Homo sapiens: one gene and its partners. The protein of the gene in region 3 interacts with the protein of the main gene of each other region in a pairwise test. Each region holds a gene or a part of one and is shown on either strand. Other genes may lie near its edges.

Region 1 (3,500 bases), on a different chromosome or scaffold from region 3:
AGCTGGGCATGGTGGTGGTGCCTATAGTCCCAGCTACTGGGGAGGCTGAGGTGGGAGAATCGCTTGAATCTGGGAGGTGGAGGTTACAGTAAGCGAGATCACACCACTGCACTCCAGCTGGGTGACAGAGGGAGACCCCGTTGAGAGAGAGAGAGAGAGAGAGAGAGAGAGAGAGAATATATATATATATATATATATATATATATATATATATATACACACACACATATATACACACACACATACATATATATATATACACACACATATACAACCACTTTGCCACTGGCACCAACCACCCAGAACTGACACTGGCTATGGTGCAGGAGCAGAATCTGGAAGACTCCCAGCTCTGCCAGGAGCGAATCTCTTCGTTTCCAAATCATGGATAAGTCTGGGGGTTCAGCCACTTAGGAGACTCGGCACAGCAAGTATCCACGAGAGAACTGTTTGACATAATTGACTCACTGATGTGGCTGTGCTGGGTGTCCCGGGTGAATGTCACCCTTGGATCACTCTTTGTCATCCCTGTCATTCCTATTTCAATGGGACTGCAGGAGTTAAAGGAGCTAACCTTTGTTATTTCACATAATGATGCTTTGTGTTATTCCAATTTCTTTATGAATTTAATGCATATAATAGGATGGCACAGAAGATTAGATGAAAACACCTGCAAAATGTGTGGTAGGGCGCCTATCACATAGTAGGCTTTAAATATAGCATATCTCTTTCCTCTGCTTCCTCCAGCCCATAATCAAGGGTGCTTGCAGCTGGCCCAGTGCCCTTTCTCTCACAGAAGCTGGGGCTTCACTAAGGCTGTCAGTTATCTGCTGAGGATCTGTCAGTGTTTGGAAGAGAAGGAGCCAGTGTTTGCTAGCTTGGCATCCCCCGGACTGTCAGGAGCCAGGCTGGGAACAGCAGAGGCCAGCAGAAGAAAGGCCAGAGTCAGCAGTCTAACATACAAGGAAATCTTTACCGCCCTCGGGCCTGTAGAACCATTCCACCACCGTGGTGGCCTCCACCTCCTCTCTCTTCATGCAGGAGATGCAGCGCAGCTTCATGGGGTTGCCCTGCACGGCCTCCGTCTCCGAGGGCACTTCCACACACACAGGGAAGCAGACACTGACTGCAGAGAGGACAGATGGACAGGGAAGGAACAGCAGGTGGTGGGGGAGGGGCACAGGAGAGAAACATTGGAGAAGAAGGAGGGAGGGAAGAGAGACAGAGAAGGAAGAGTCATGAGGCCAACCTGAAAAAAGCCACGTGCACATGTCTACACCTTCACCTGCGCTCCCTGAATGTACAGGCTCAGAACGTGTACACATTGGAGGAGACCTGGATGATCTAGACATTGACTGAAATCCTTCCCCTGGAAGCAGTGGAGATGCAGCACCGTACATTATACTTGAGCCCTGCTCTCTAAGTCTTATAGCCCAAATGGGAGACAGGGCATCTACCTACCCAGCAACCATCCATCCCCCTTCATTCCACCACCACTCATTAAAATCCACTCTCTGCCAGGTCTGATGCTAGACTAGAGATGCAAAGATGAATAAAACACTAACCATGCCCTAAATGCATTTATAATCCAATAGGGAACACATATTCCTAACTAGGATTAAACCAGACCACAGCAAGTAACACACTCATGATATATTCTGTTCTTAGAAGACAGGCAGTTAGTTACTCCCAGTTGGCCTGGGGAGAAAGGAAGAGAAGGATGGTGAAACATGAGGCTAGAAAGGTAGGCAGGGCCCATGCTGTGAAGACCTCTGTGTGTCCCTTCCAGTGTGAGGTATCCAATGTTTTAAAGTCGTGGAGAGATGTAATTGTATCTGTGTTGTGTGAAAACTGTAGGTAATTCTGACACATGGTGGAGGTTGGAGCAGCAGTGAAGAAAATGGCGAGCGGACCACTAAGCTGGAACAATGGTCTATGCAGAGGAGTATAGCAAGGCAAGTTAAAATCTGGAGCGGGGTCAGATTGTGGGACACCTTGCATGCCACACAGAGGTCTAAGACTTAGTGTTTCTGCCCTCTAGAAACTTGAAGTCTGTTTTTTAAAAGGAGGCAAGTATATCAGCTTGATAATTCAGAATAACTTGAGCGGGACAAGGCTGCCAGCAAAACATGCGCAAATGTGAGCTGCATTAACAGATGTACAGTACGCAGGAGGAAGGAGGCGTAGTTTCTCGGCACTGTTTTTGGAACAAATCTGGACTATTATGATCAGTTCAGGATGTCACATTTTAAAAAAGGAAGTTGTTCAAAGAGTGCATGCCCAGAGGTGAGGGAGATGGTGAAGGATCTGGAGATAAAGTCTGGTGAGGAAAAAATGGGAGAATTCGAGTTGCTTAGCTTGGACACAGAACATATCTGTCTTCAAATATTTGAAGGCTGGCAGATGGAAGAGAAATTTGATTCTGCCCAACCCTAAAAGTTATAAGAAAAAAATAAGTTTAATGCAATAAAGAAAGAATTTTATGATTTTGGAGCTGTTCACAAATGCAAATAACTAAATGCTAAGAGAGTGTACACAGCATTGTTTGGGATATTTGAAAGTAAGACGAGGCCAGGTGCTGTGGCTCACACCTGCAATCCCAGCACTTTGGGAGGCTAAGTTGAGAGGATTGCTTGATGTTAGGGGTCTGAGACAAGCCTGGGCAACATAGTGAGACCCCTGAGTCTACAAAAATAAAATAAAATAAAAATTAGCCAAACATGGTAACACACAACTGTAGTCCCAACCACTCAGGAGGTAAGAGGATTGCTTGAGCCCAGGAGTTTGAGGCTGCAATGAGCTATGATGGCACCACTGCACTCCAGACTGGTTGACAGAGTAAGACCCTATCTCTTGAAAAAATAAAAACAACATGATGGTCACCGCAGATTCTTATATTAGGACTTTGAAGATCCCTTCTGATGCTACTTTTTCATGAATTAATAATAAAAACAGAACCCCCAGAAAAAAAAAGAAATAATACACACTACATTTAAAAACTAGTCCACTGTTAATGGTCAGCCTGTTCATCTCCTGGCAGAGCGTTCTTTCCTAAAAGCAGAGGAAGGTTTTATTTAGAGCTTAATAAGACACTGCCATAAATTAATTTTGAGTCCAAAAACTGTGTTTGATTGACTTAGAAGGCAATGTATTTATTTTAAAACATGGAGTTTAAAAACTAGTGGCACTAGAATTAACTTAAAGTTGTAAACATCAAGGTAAAATAAATGTAATTGGGTTTTCAACTCTCCAGCAAGCTGGGTGAGTCTTATCTGACAGTCTTCAAGAGGACCTATTGCTTCTGCAGATGGTGAGCCACGTTAATGGAGAGAGGACTCACATCTAGGGAGAACTGATCAGAAACATCTTCAGCATATGATGAGTCTGAAGTATTGATTATAGATCTGATTAAACAAAAAGGAAATGTGGTTTGCGCAAAAGTTTGTGAGTGGGCAGAGGGGTAGAGCGTATGCAGCAAGAACTCCGTGTAGTATGGAACC
Region 2 (3,500 bases), on a different chromosome or scaffold from region 3:
CATGGAAAGATAGTTCATGGAAATAACAATGAAATAGACAACAAATATTATGGTATTAAGTTATATCAACAGAAAAATGGGAATGTGATTTCATAGGTTACAAAAAATTCTTTGAAAACATTGCCTTTTAATTGCTATCACTTTTATAAAAACCAAGTTATACTGAACCTATTTGAAAGGACAAAAAATTAAAATTAAAAAAAAAAAAAAAACCTTACTATCTGACACAGGCACTTGTGCTCATTGACCAATTTTTCCAGAGATAGACATTCAATGACATCAGCTTCTCCTAAAGCTCCTTCTTTATCTTGTTTATTTGCCAACCTGAAAGATAATTAAAGTACTTTTATACAGCATATATATAATTGGATGGAAACTTAAAGATATTTTGACCACATTCTTTTTTTTTTTTTTTTTTGAGACTGAGTCTTGCTCTGTTTCCCAGGCTGGAGTACAGTGGTGCAATCTCAGCTCACTGCAACCTCCGCCTCCCAGGTTCAAGTGATTCTCCTGCCTCAGCCTCCAGAGTAGCTGGGACTACAGTTGTGTGCCACCACGCGAGGCTAATTTTTTGTATTTTCAGTAGAGACTGGGTTTCGCCATGTTGGCCAGGCTGGTCTTGAACTCCTGACCTCAAGTGATCTGTCAGTCTCAGCCTCTCAAAGTGCTGGGATTACAGATATCATCCACCATGCCTGGCCTGACCACATTCTTTGATTCCCAAGTTTTAAATGTACTGATTACAGAACACACTAGTATCTTAAAATGTTGTAGCATCAATTTTGTCATTTTTCCCTTATTATTGCTAAAATAGTTTTTAAGTACTGGCCTATAAAAGGAAAATCAAATAAAGTGTCAAGAAAACATAAACAAGAGATCAATATGCCAACAAAACAGAAAAAGCTACAAAACAGAAAAATAAGAGGACTAATTTCCACAGGTCACATCCATAAATTATATTCTTATCTTCTTAAAATACAAACTGTAATGTTTTAAATGCCCAAATATTCATTCTGAACTTTTAATATTTGAGCTCATCTACAATTCTAATGTGTGAATGTGTCCACATAAATGTGCAATTTACTGAAGACCCAAGGCCACTTCTAATATACTTGGCAAAGCACTGGGAATTAAAAAAAAAAAAAAAATTGTACTCAATTAGAGACAAACTGGACACCAACAAAATGGAAAACCAATATATTCTACAGAAAAACAGGATTTACCACAATTTACCACTATTTAATTATATAACATAGATTTAAAAGTTTAATAAAATACTGCCTTGCTCAAAGTTTGACAGACTCTTTAGGTTAAAAAAAAAATTAAGTACATAGACTAAGAAATCTAACGAACCCTTCCCACCTATCTTTAAAAATTATCAAAACTGTGTCATTCTTGCTTATCTATATACCTTCTTTTTTTTTGTATTTCCCAAGTTACCATTAAAATCTACATACCTTCTATTTTGCTGCCTGAATCACATTACTTCACCCAGATATTAAAAAATCATTACCATGATACCACTATCACACCTAACAAAATTAACAGTAAGTCTTCAATATTACTCAATTTACTCAATATTCTCCAATATCATTTTACAAGTGTTATGTTTAAATTCAGGTCCAATATACGTTACTTATCACTTAACTCTTTTTGAATCTATATTATACCTGCCCTCCCCACTACCACCCCCATGACTCTTTTCCTCCCATGACATTTGTAATTTTTCTTTAGAATTCCCATGTTTGGGATTTGGCTAATATCTTCCTTATAAACTTATTTAACATACCTATCCTATATTTCCCGTATCTGGTGGTAAGAAGCTGGATGAGTTTCAGATGAAATCTTTTTGGCAAGCATACTTCGTAGGTGGTGCTTGTATTTAGGGAGGCATATAATATCACTTTTATATAATGTCCTATTTTGGTGGTATAAAATTAACTAATGGATTTACATTTAGCCTGATCCATCCAAAATAAAGTTCCTCATTAATCTTTCACTTAATGATTTTAGCAGCCATTGATGACCTTTACTTAATTCTATTATTTTACCAAAGTTTATGAAACAGTAACTTTATAGTTCCATATTCCTTCTGCATTTACTAGCAGGATTCTTGCTAAAAATAAGCTTTCACCAACTACTTGGTGCCTCTTAAAATTCACAAAGTCAAGATAAATGTTTGATCCTTTGCCTTTATTTCCTGATTTTCAAAATAATGAATTAATGGCGTAGCAACCTCCGAAGGTGATCAGGTTGATTTAAAAAAAAAAAATCCTATAAATTTAAGGATTATGAGTGCAGTTTTGTGATGTAAATGTATTGCATAGTGGTGATATATTGCATAGTGGTGAGGTCTGGGCTTTCAGTGTAACCATAAGCTTAATAATGTGCATTGTAGGTATTAATTTCTCATCTCTAACTCCCCTTCCACCCTCCCACCTGTCCAAGTCTCCAATGTCTATTAATCCACACTCCATGTCAATGTGTACACATTATTTAACTTCCACTTGTGAGAACACGCTAGATTTGACTGTTTCTGAATTATTTCACTTTAAAAAATGACCTCCAGCTCCATCCACGTTGCTGGAAAAAACATGCTTTTTTAAATAGTTGAATAGCATTCCATTTTATGTATGTATATACAAAACACACACACAAACATTTTCTTTCATCATCCATTGAAGGACATTTAGGTTGACTCCCTACCTTTGCTACTGTGAATAATGCTGTGATAAACATCTTGAGTTCAGATATCTTTTCTTGTATAATGATTTCTTTTCCTTTGGATAGGTACCCAGTAGTGAGGTTGCTAGACTGAATGGTAGTTCTTTTTTTAGGTCTTTAAGAAATCTCCATACTGGCCGGGCACGGTGGCTTACGCCTGTAATCCCAGCACTTTGGGAGGCCGAGGCGGGCGGATCACAAGGTCAGGAGATCGAGACCATCCTGGCTAACACGGTGAAACCCCATCTCTACTAAAAATACAAAAAACTAGCCGGGCGTGGTGGCAGGCGCCTGTAGTCCCAGCTACTCGGGAGGCTGAGGCAGGAGAAGGGCATGAACCCGGGAGGCAGAGCTTGCAGTGAGCCGAGATCGCGCCACTACACTTCAGCCTGGGCAACACAGCGAGACTCCGTCTCAAAAGAAAAAAAAAAAAGAAATCTCCATACTGTTTTCCATAGTGATTGTACTAATTTACATTCCAAGAGTGTATAAACATTCCTTTTGCTACACAATCTCGCAGACATCTGCTATGTTTTAACTTTTCAGTAACAGCTAAAAATTCTGACTGGTGTGAGATGGTATTTCATTGTGGTTTTAATCTGCATTTCTCTGATTAGGCATATTGAGCATTTTTTTCATATGCTTGTTGGCCATCTGTATGTCTTCTTTTGAAAAATGACTATTCATGTCTTTTGCACATTTTTAATGGGGTTGTTTTTTGTTGTTGATTTCCTTGTAAGTTTTGGTTATTAGTCTCCTATAGGATAAAGAGGTCG
Region 3 (3,500 bases):
CCATATTGGAGATGAAAGAAAAAGATTCAGGGAGATAAAATAACTTTTTAGGAAACATGAATAGAGTATTTTCCATCCATGATGCCCCAGATTGATTAACGCTGACGCTCATGCTCTGTCTACCCTATTCCATCCTTCTCATTCTTGAAGTGAGAAAACAGTGTGACATTCTGAATAAAAGTAAATTGTAAGAACAATTGAAGTTTAAAACACTTGTATTGGGATAATGCCACCTCATTTTATGACTACCTGGAATGATATCCCTCTCTCCTTTGTTACTTAAAGATTGGTAGAATTAAAATAGATATATTTGCATATACATTGGAGAATATTTTATATGCAGAGTAATAAGTACTATTAGCATAAGTACACAAAAGTAAAAAAAGATAACATTGTTTTTATTAAAGTTGAAGAACAAAGGCATAATTTTAATGCAATTACTATGTAAAGGACACACTGACTGTCAGTAATAGTAATGTCCTGCATTAGATGAATCCAGTTCAAAAGTGTTTAATGTGAGTATTCTCCTTGAGAGAAAATGCATACCTGTAAATACTCTATCACCTCAATTCTAAATAATGGCTATTATGTACATGTTTCTTGGATTCAGTGTAATTTCATCATTATAAAAATAAATTCAATTACTTCATTAAGATATTTTTGAAAATATATCTATGACAGAAGTTGATAAAAGTTTATGTATTCAACATTTTTTGTCTGATTAATGCTAAGTCAGTCGCGTTTTGCTCAATTCATTGACACTCTTAATTTGGAATTGCCAAGTGAATATAACTAACAATAATTATTATAGAAACAATCTCATATGCTAGAATAATAAAAAGTGCAAATGTCCCTGTAATCCCAGAACTTTGGGAGGCCAAGGTGGGTGGATCACCTGAGGTCAGGAGTTTGAGACCAGCCTGCCCAACATGGTGAAACCCAGTCTGTGCTTAAAATACAAAAATTAGCCGGGTATGGTGGCGGGCACCTGTAACCCTAGCTACTCAGGAGGCTGATGCAGGAGAATCGCTTGAATCCAGGAGGCAATGATTGCAGTGAGCCAAGATCATGCCACTGTACTCCAGCCTGGGCAAAAAGAGTGAGCCTCTGTCTCAAAAAAAAAAAAAAAAAAAAATGCAAATGCCATTAACACTTATTAGTAACATTAGTTATTCATCTTTCAGTAATATAAATGCTATGCCTCTTGTGTGTATGAAATGCTTCCCAATTATTCACACAAAGATAAGTTAACTTTGAAATGACTGTGATACAAAAGTGCTGAAAATTTTAACTTTTATATTTTATTTATTTAATTAATTTTTAGAGACAGGATCTTGCTCTGTCGCCCAGGCTGGAGTACAATGGTGTAGTCATGGTTGACTGTAAACTTGAACTCCTAGGTTCAAGCAATCCTTCCACCTTGACCTCTAAAAAGCTGTGGGATTACAGGTATGAGCCACCATGCCCAACAGACTTTTATATTTTAATAAATAATTTTTAATATCTGAAATTCTGGGCTTTTCCTCCTCATAAAACAACAACATTGTAGTAGAGAGACTTACATACCACTTAGTTATTCAACTTTATTGATACTGTATCTTTTCTACCATGTTGTTTTTTATTCAATCAAGTTTATATCTCTACCTCTATACCTAAAATGTCGTTTCCCAAAACACTGTGAATTATCTTACCAAGTCCTCATACTTGATATTTTCTAAAATATTTTAGAATTCCTTTCCTAGCCTTTCTAAACTTTTAAAATACTTTTTGCCACAATCTCCTTTATAAAATACCGTCTTCATCTAGTGTATCTTGTCATTTGCCTTGTACCTTTTCTGGCCATACTTTCTTAGACTGTTTCTCTAGGTCTTCTCCCACTGTGGCCCTTTATATCCCAATATTCTCTGTGAAATATCCTGGCTCTTCTTTTCAATATTTTCTTTGCTTTAATGATCCCTCCCACTCCCATGGCTTGAAATATACATTTATTGAGTTCCATGCTTACATCTTCAGCCTAACTCCTTCTCCTAAACTGAGTCACCCATTCACTAATTTTCCCATGAGATATATTGGTCTAAATATGTCATTGCTACCTCAAGCTCAGTATATCTGAATTAAATTGATATTCTTCTTCACAACACTAAGCAATCTGTTCTTCCTTTTTTCATACCCTGTACCTCCTTTACTGACTACAGGCATGATGAAAACCTTGATGGCATTTTCCTACTTTCCCTGGAAGGCACTGTGTCTTCTGCACCCTAAATCTAAGCTAACATTGCTTCAGTGTGACCTCAAGCCCTCTTCTACTCACTCTTCACTATAACTTCTATTGTCGGAGTTCTGTTTCCCTTTGCCTCTCAGTCAACGACTCACGTCACTGGCCTTCCAGCTTCTAAACTCATCTCTCTTCATTCTAGACAAACAAAATATCACTCTTCTGCTCAAAGTTTACAGTGGCTACCACCTACTTATAAGTTAAAGTCCAATATCTTACCATTGTTTGAAAGTTTATTGATAATCTGGTCCTAACTCACTGGATTGGCATGAAATCTTTTCATTGCTATCCCACATCCTGGGCTTGAGGTGCTGTGTACTACTGGGACTTTCAAGATCTAGGAAAGCTGCTGTGCCTTTTCACTTTTATTTTTTTCCTTCTCTCTGCTTAGAATGGCCTTCTACTCCTTCCTCAGTCAAAATCCACCTCATCCTTCAAGACCCAGATCATATATTAAATTATCTTTGCGACCCTTCACACCTCCTTTATCAGCCAAATAACTTCTTTGTTCTTATAATGTTCTGTTCATGTGTATGGTATGCCATGTTGTAATTGTGTACTTATAGTGTTGTTTAATTGTGAGTATCTCCTAAAGCCTGTAATCAGTTGAATAAGAATTTTTTTAAAAAAGTTAATTGTGAGCTTCTCAATGGCAGGGATGGCAGTATCCCATTCAGCTTTTACCACAGTGGTTACATATTTTAGCTCCTCAAAAACTCTTTGTTGTGAGTTGACTTAATAAAGCACATAGATAGATAGATAGATAGATATTTAACATTACATATAATGTATAAGTAATAAGTATTATTCATGTATATATTATATGTATACACACATGTGTACAGTTGGCTCTTGAACAACATGATTTGATTTGGGCAGTTCAACTTACATGCATTTTCTTCCACCTCTGCCACTGCTCAAACAACAAAACCAACCCCTTATCTATCTTCCTCTTCCTCCTCAGCCTATTCAATGTGAAGACGATGAAGATAAAGACCTTTATGATGATCCAGTTCCATTTAATGAATAGTAAATATATTGTCTCTTCCTCGTGATTTTCCAAATGTCATTTCCTTGTCTCTAGCTTACTTTATTGTAACAATATAGTATATAATACATATATAAAATATGTATTAATTGACTGTTCATGTTATCTGTAAGGCTTCTGATCAATAGTTGGCTATTAGTAGTTAAGTTTTGGGGAAGTCAAAAGTTATACATAAAT
Region 4 (3,500 bases), on a different chromosome or scaffold from region 3:
CACATATGTGAAGAGCTGGTAAAGGTAAGGGGGACACATCTCTTTTTTTTCTTCTTTCTTCTAGAATCCAGATCTGCCCTAGATTCTACACTAATATTGAGGCACTGGAAGATTAATCATAAAAATTTCTATACAAAGGCAGTTGAAGTTGATATTTCCATCTCCCACAAAACTAACCAATTATATGAGGTCTGTATAGCTGCATTTCTCAGTTCCAGCACCCCATGGATCTAGAACACTTGCCTCAGAGTCTCGTCCAAAAGTGTCCTCGATCCTATATACATCCAAGTAATTACTTCTGATGTCCTTTCCATTCTAAAATTCCACAAAATGAGGACACATTACAAAATCATGGTGTGGAGGGAAAAAAATGAAGTCACAAGTGACAGCATTGAAAAGATGTACACTGACAACCCTTAACAAACCTCCACAAACATTTGTTGAGCTCCTGGTACATGCCAAGCTTTGTGTCAGATACTGGTGGACAAGACAGACCAAGTAGCTTACATTCTGGTGTGTTGTGTCCACTTGAATTCTGTGTCCTTGTGTCAGAGACTCTGTGGCTCTTCTACTCAAACAAATTTAATGATTCTTGATTAAGGCAAAGATCTGGCCAGTTTCCTGTCCAGAAGTATGTGAACTCCGTTATAAGTTTCATGTATCTTAAGAGAAGGTGCACAAATCAGAAATGTTTCTGACTCACACTCACCCAAAAATGTCCTAGGATGTTGACCTCAAATGTCTTGGTAATCTCTTCATCCTTGGTGCTGAGAAGATCGGCTGGATATACTGTCCCAGCATTATTCACCACGATTGTTACATCACCCACTTCTTTCTTCACCTTTTGAAATTGAAAGAACACTTTCACTGGGTGTATTATTCAAACTCAAAGTTTTGGGACCAATATAATCCAAAGATGAGAGTCTTTCTTCTATTGTATGAGGTCTCTCAGAGTTCAGGCAAGACAGACTGTTGAGCTCAAATCGTGGAGGCCAAGGGAACACTGTCATAAAGGTGGGATAAACTGTTCTTTTAACATCTAAATTTCAGTACCCAGCACATCATGTTTTGCAAGTTTATCAGTAAAGTGAAATTAACATTTATGTTGATAAATTCCTATATAAATTCTGACCAAATATTTTTAAAGTGTTCATTTTTTAAAAATGTGTTTTTCTTTAAACTTTTTTTTTTTTTTTTTTTTTTTTTTTTAGAGATAGGGTCTCACTATGTTGCCTGGGCTGGTCTTGAACTCTTGGTCTCATGTGATCCTTCCACCTTGGCCTCACAAAGTGCTGGGATTACATGTGTGAACCACCGCACCTGGTCTAAAGTGCTGGTTGAGAAATCCTGGTTTCATAACCTAATAACTACATGACCTGGGTCTGGCTTAACCTCTCTGAGTCATAATTTGCTTATCTGTAAAATGAAGTTTACAGAGTTATTGTAGGGATTGAATTAAAAAATGTAAAGTTTGTTAGAGTGCTTAGTTCATTGTGATTATTTGGTATTTACTCTTTTAAAATAATTGTGATAATAATTATTAATATTACATTTTCTACAGAAGACTACATTAACACCAAAATAAAATCTCACAAGGGAAATAATTAAAGAGAAGCTGGAATTACTGCAAAGTTAATAGGACTAAAACAAAACTAGGAAGTGATCCATATTCCCTGATGATAAATCTTTTGTCAGTCACTCTGTGCCACTGCTCACACTTCTGATCAGAATGAAATTGATTAATAATATGAACAATAATAATGGGCAGAGCTGAGTGGATTACATACAAGAAAAAAAGTATATATCCTTCCTTGGTGACATAACTACTTCAGTTAGCAGCTAAAATCCAATTTAAATCAGGCAGTCATAAAGACCTTTCTCATTTTCCACGTCAGCGTCCTAGGAAACAAAATAATCTGAAGAAATTTGTGAACCTGCAGTCTCACCTGATTTAGAGAGCGATAGATCTCTTCTCTGTTGCTGCAGTCTACCACATACGCATGCGCAGTGACGCCTAGTTTTCGGCACTCAGCTGCAGTTTCCTCCACACCGCGCTGTAATTAGGAAGAAACAAATTCCGAAAAAAGTGGAGGAGAAGACATTGGAGAAGAAAAATTTTTAGACAATTAACATTCGGCTAGGCGCGGTGGCTCACGCCTGTAATCCCAGCACTTTGGTTGGCCGAGGAGGGCGGATCACGAGGTCAGGAGTTCAAGACCAGCCTGGCCAACATGGTGAAACCCCGTCTCTACTAAAAATACAAAAATTAGCCAGGCCTGATGGTGTGGGCCTGTAATCCCAGCTACTTGGGAGGCTGAGGCAGGATAATTGCTTGAACCTGGGAGGAGGAAGTTGCAGTGAGTGGAGATAGTGCCACTGGACTCCAGCCTGGGCAACAGAGTGAGACTCTGTCTCAAAAAAAAAAAAAAAAAAAATTAACATTCATGTCCAAAATGAACAATTAACATTCATTTTGGACATGAAGATTAGTTAACCTTTTAAAAATTGGCCTCCTGGGTCAGGTGTGGTGGCTCACGCCTGTAATCCCAGCACTTTAGGAGGCCGAGGAGGGTGGATCACTTGAGGTCAGGAGTTTGAGACCAGTCTGGCCAAAATGGTGAAACCCCATCTCTACTAAAAATACAAAAAATTAGCTGGGCGTGGTGGTGGGAGCCTGTAATCCCAGCTACTCGGGAAGTTTAGACAGGAGAATCACTTGAACCCGGGAGGCGGAGGTTGCAGTGAGCTGAAATCATTCCATTGCACTCCAACCTGGGTGACAGAGTGGGACTTCGTCTCAAAATAAAATAAAAATTGGCCTCCTTATTTGTTAGAAAATTTCTTGAGAGTGATTGCCTAGTTGCAATGAGATTACCCCTGGCTTTTCTGCCAGGGAATGCTCATATTAAAACCAAAACAAACAAAACAAAACAAAATCCCTTCATGCTTTTTTCAGCTTTTCCTCTTGGTTGGAGGCTGTACAGTAGGCAGTTTCTCTAAAGCAGGCTACTTTCAAACCTTGAAGAACATTCTTGAAAAACATTGCTCTTCGTGGTGTCATGGAAGATGAATATGGAGAAGAAAGAAAAACTCAACCATTAATTTATCATACATTTGTTGAGCACCAACTATGTAATAGGCAGTAAAGTGCTAAGTAGTAATTCTAAACTAGTGGTAATGGTAAACTGTATGCCTCTGCCCATCATATTTTTCTTGATGATTCTGACTCATCCTCCTAGGAGGGAAGGGAAAGAAGTCTCCTTAAAGAAGAAGGACTTTCATAGGGAGACCATGCTGCTACTCTAGGAGATATAACATTACATTCTTCAGGTGTTTGGGAGTGAGATGGGCAAGGCCACTGGATGGATTTCTCATTTATGTACCAAACTTGCCCATAACCATAGGACATGGAGACAGAGCAATTTACTTTCAGCCTAAATTCAAAGACCTCTTTCCTAAGATAAAATTGCTCTAATGTTTCTTGACTCACATTCTGGAAA

Evidence for each region. Proteins that work in one complex are often made in the same cells at the same time.
Region 1: the proteins of THSD7A (region 3) and SCN3B interact in binary tests that used the Homo sapiens proteins (3 or more experiments, as listed by UniProt).
Region 2: the proteins of THSD7A (region 3) and ARL13B interact in binary tests that used the Homo sapiens proteins (3 or more experiments, as listed by UniProt).
Region 4: the proteins of THSD7A (region 3) and HSD17B13 interact in binary tests that used the Homo sapiens proteins (3 or more experiments, as listed by UniProt).

The regions. Positions count from the first base shown.
Region 1 is NC_000011.10:123,644,625-123,648,124, forward strand, and holds part of SCN3B (sodium channel regulatory subunit beta-3 precursor), read right to left. Parts: intron 1,127-3,500; coding exon 963-1,126; intron 1-962. UniProt on the Homo sapiens protein: Regulatory subunit of multiple voltage-gated sodium (Nav) channels directly mediating the depolarization of excitable membranes.
Region 2 is NC_000003.12:94,032,155-94,035,654, reverse strand, and holds part of ARL13B (ADP-ribosylation factor-like protein 13B), read right to left. Parts: intron 325-3,500; coding exon 219-324; exon of another isoform or gene 214-218; intron 1-213. UniProt on the Homo sapiens protein: Cilium-specific protein required to control the microtubule-based, ciliary axoneme structure. May act by maintaining the association between IFT subcomplexes A and B. Binds GTP but is not able to hydrolyze fit; the GTPase activity remains unclear.
Region 3 is NC_000007.14:11,825,699-11,829,198, forward strand, and holds part of THSD7A (thrombospondin type-1 domain-containing protein 7A precursor), read right to left. Parts: intron 1-3,500.
Region 4 is NC_000004.12:87,316,383-87,319,882, forward strand, and holds part of HSD17B13 (17-beta-hydroxysteroid dehydrogenase 13 isoform A precursor), read right to left. Parts: intron 2,055-3,500; coding exon 1,947-2,054; intron 842-1,946; coding exon 710-841; intron 1-709. UniProt on the Homo sapiens protein: Plays a pivotal role in hepatic lipid metabolism. In vitro, it catalyzes the oxidation of a variety of lipid substrates, including 17beta-estradiol, retinol, retinal, and leukotriene B4.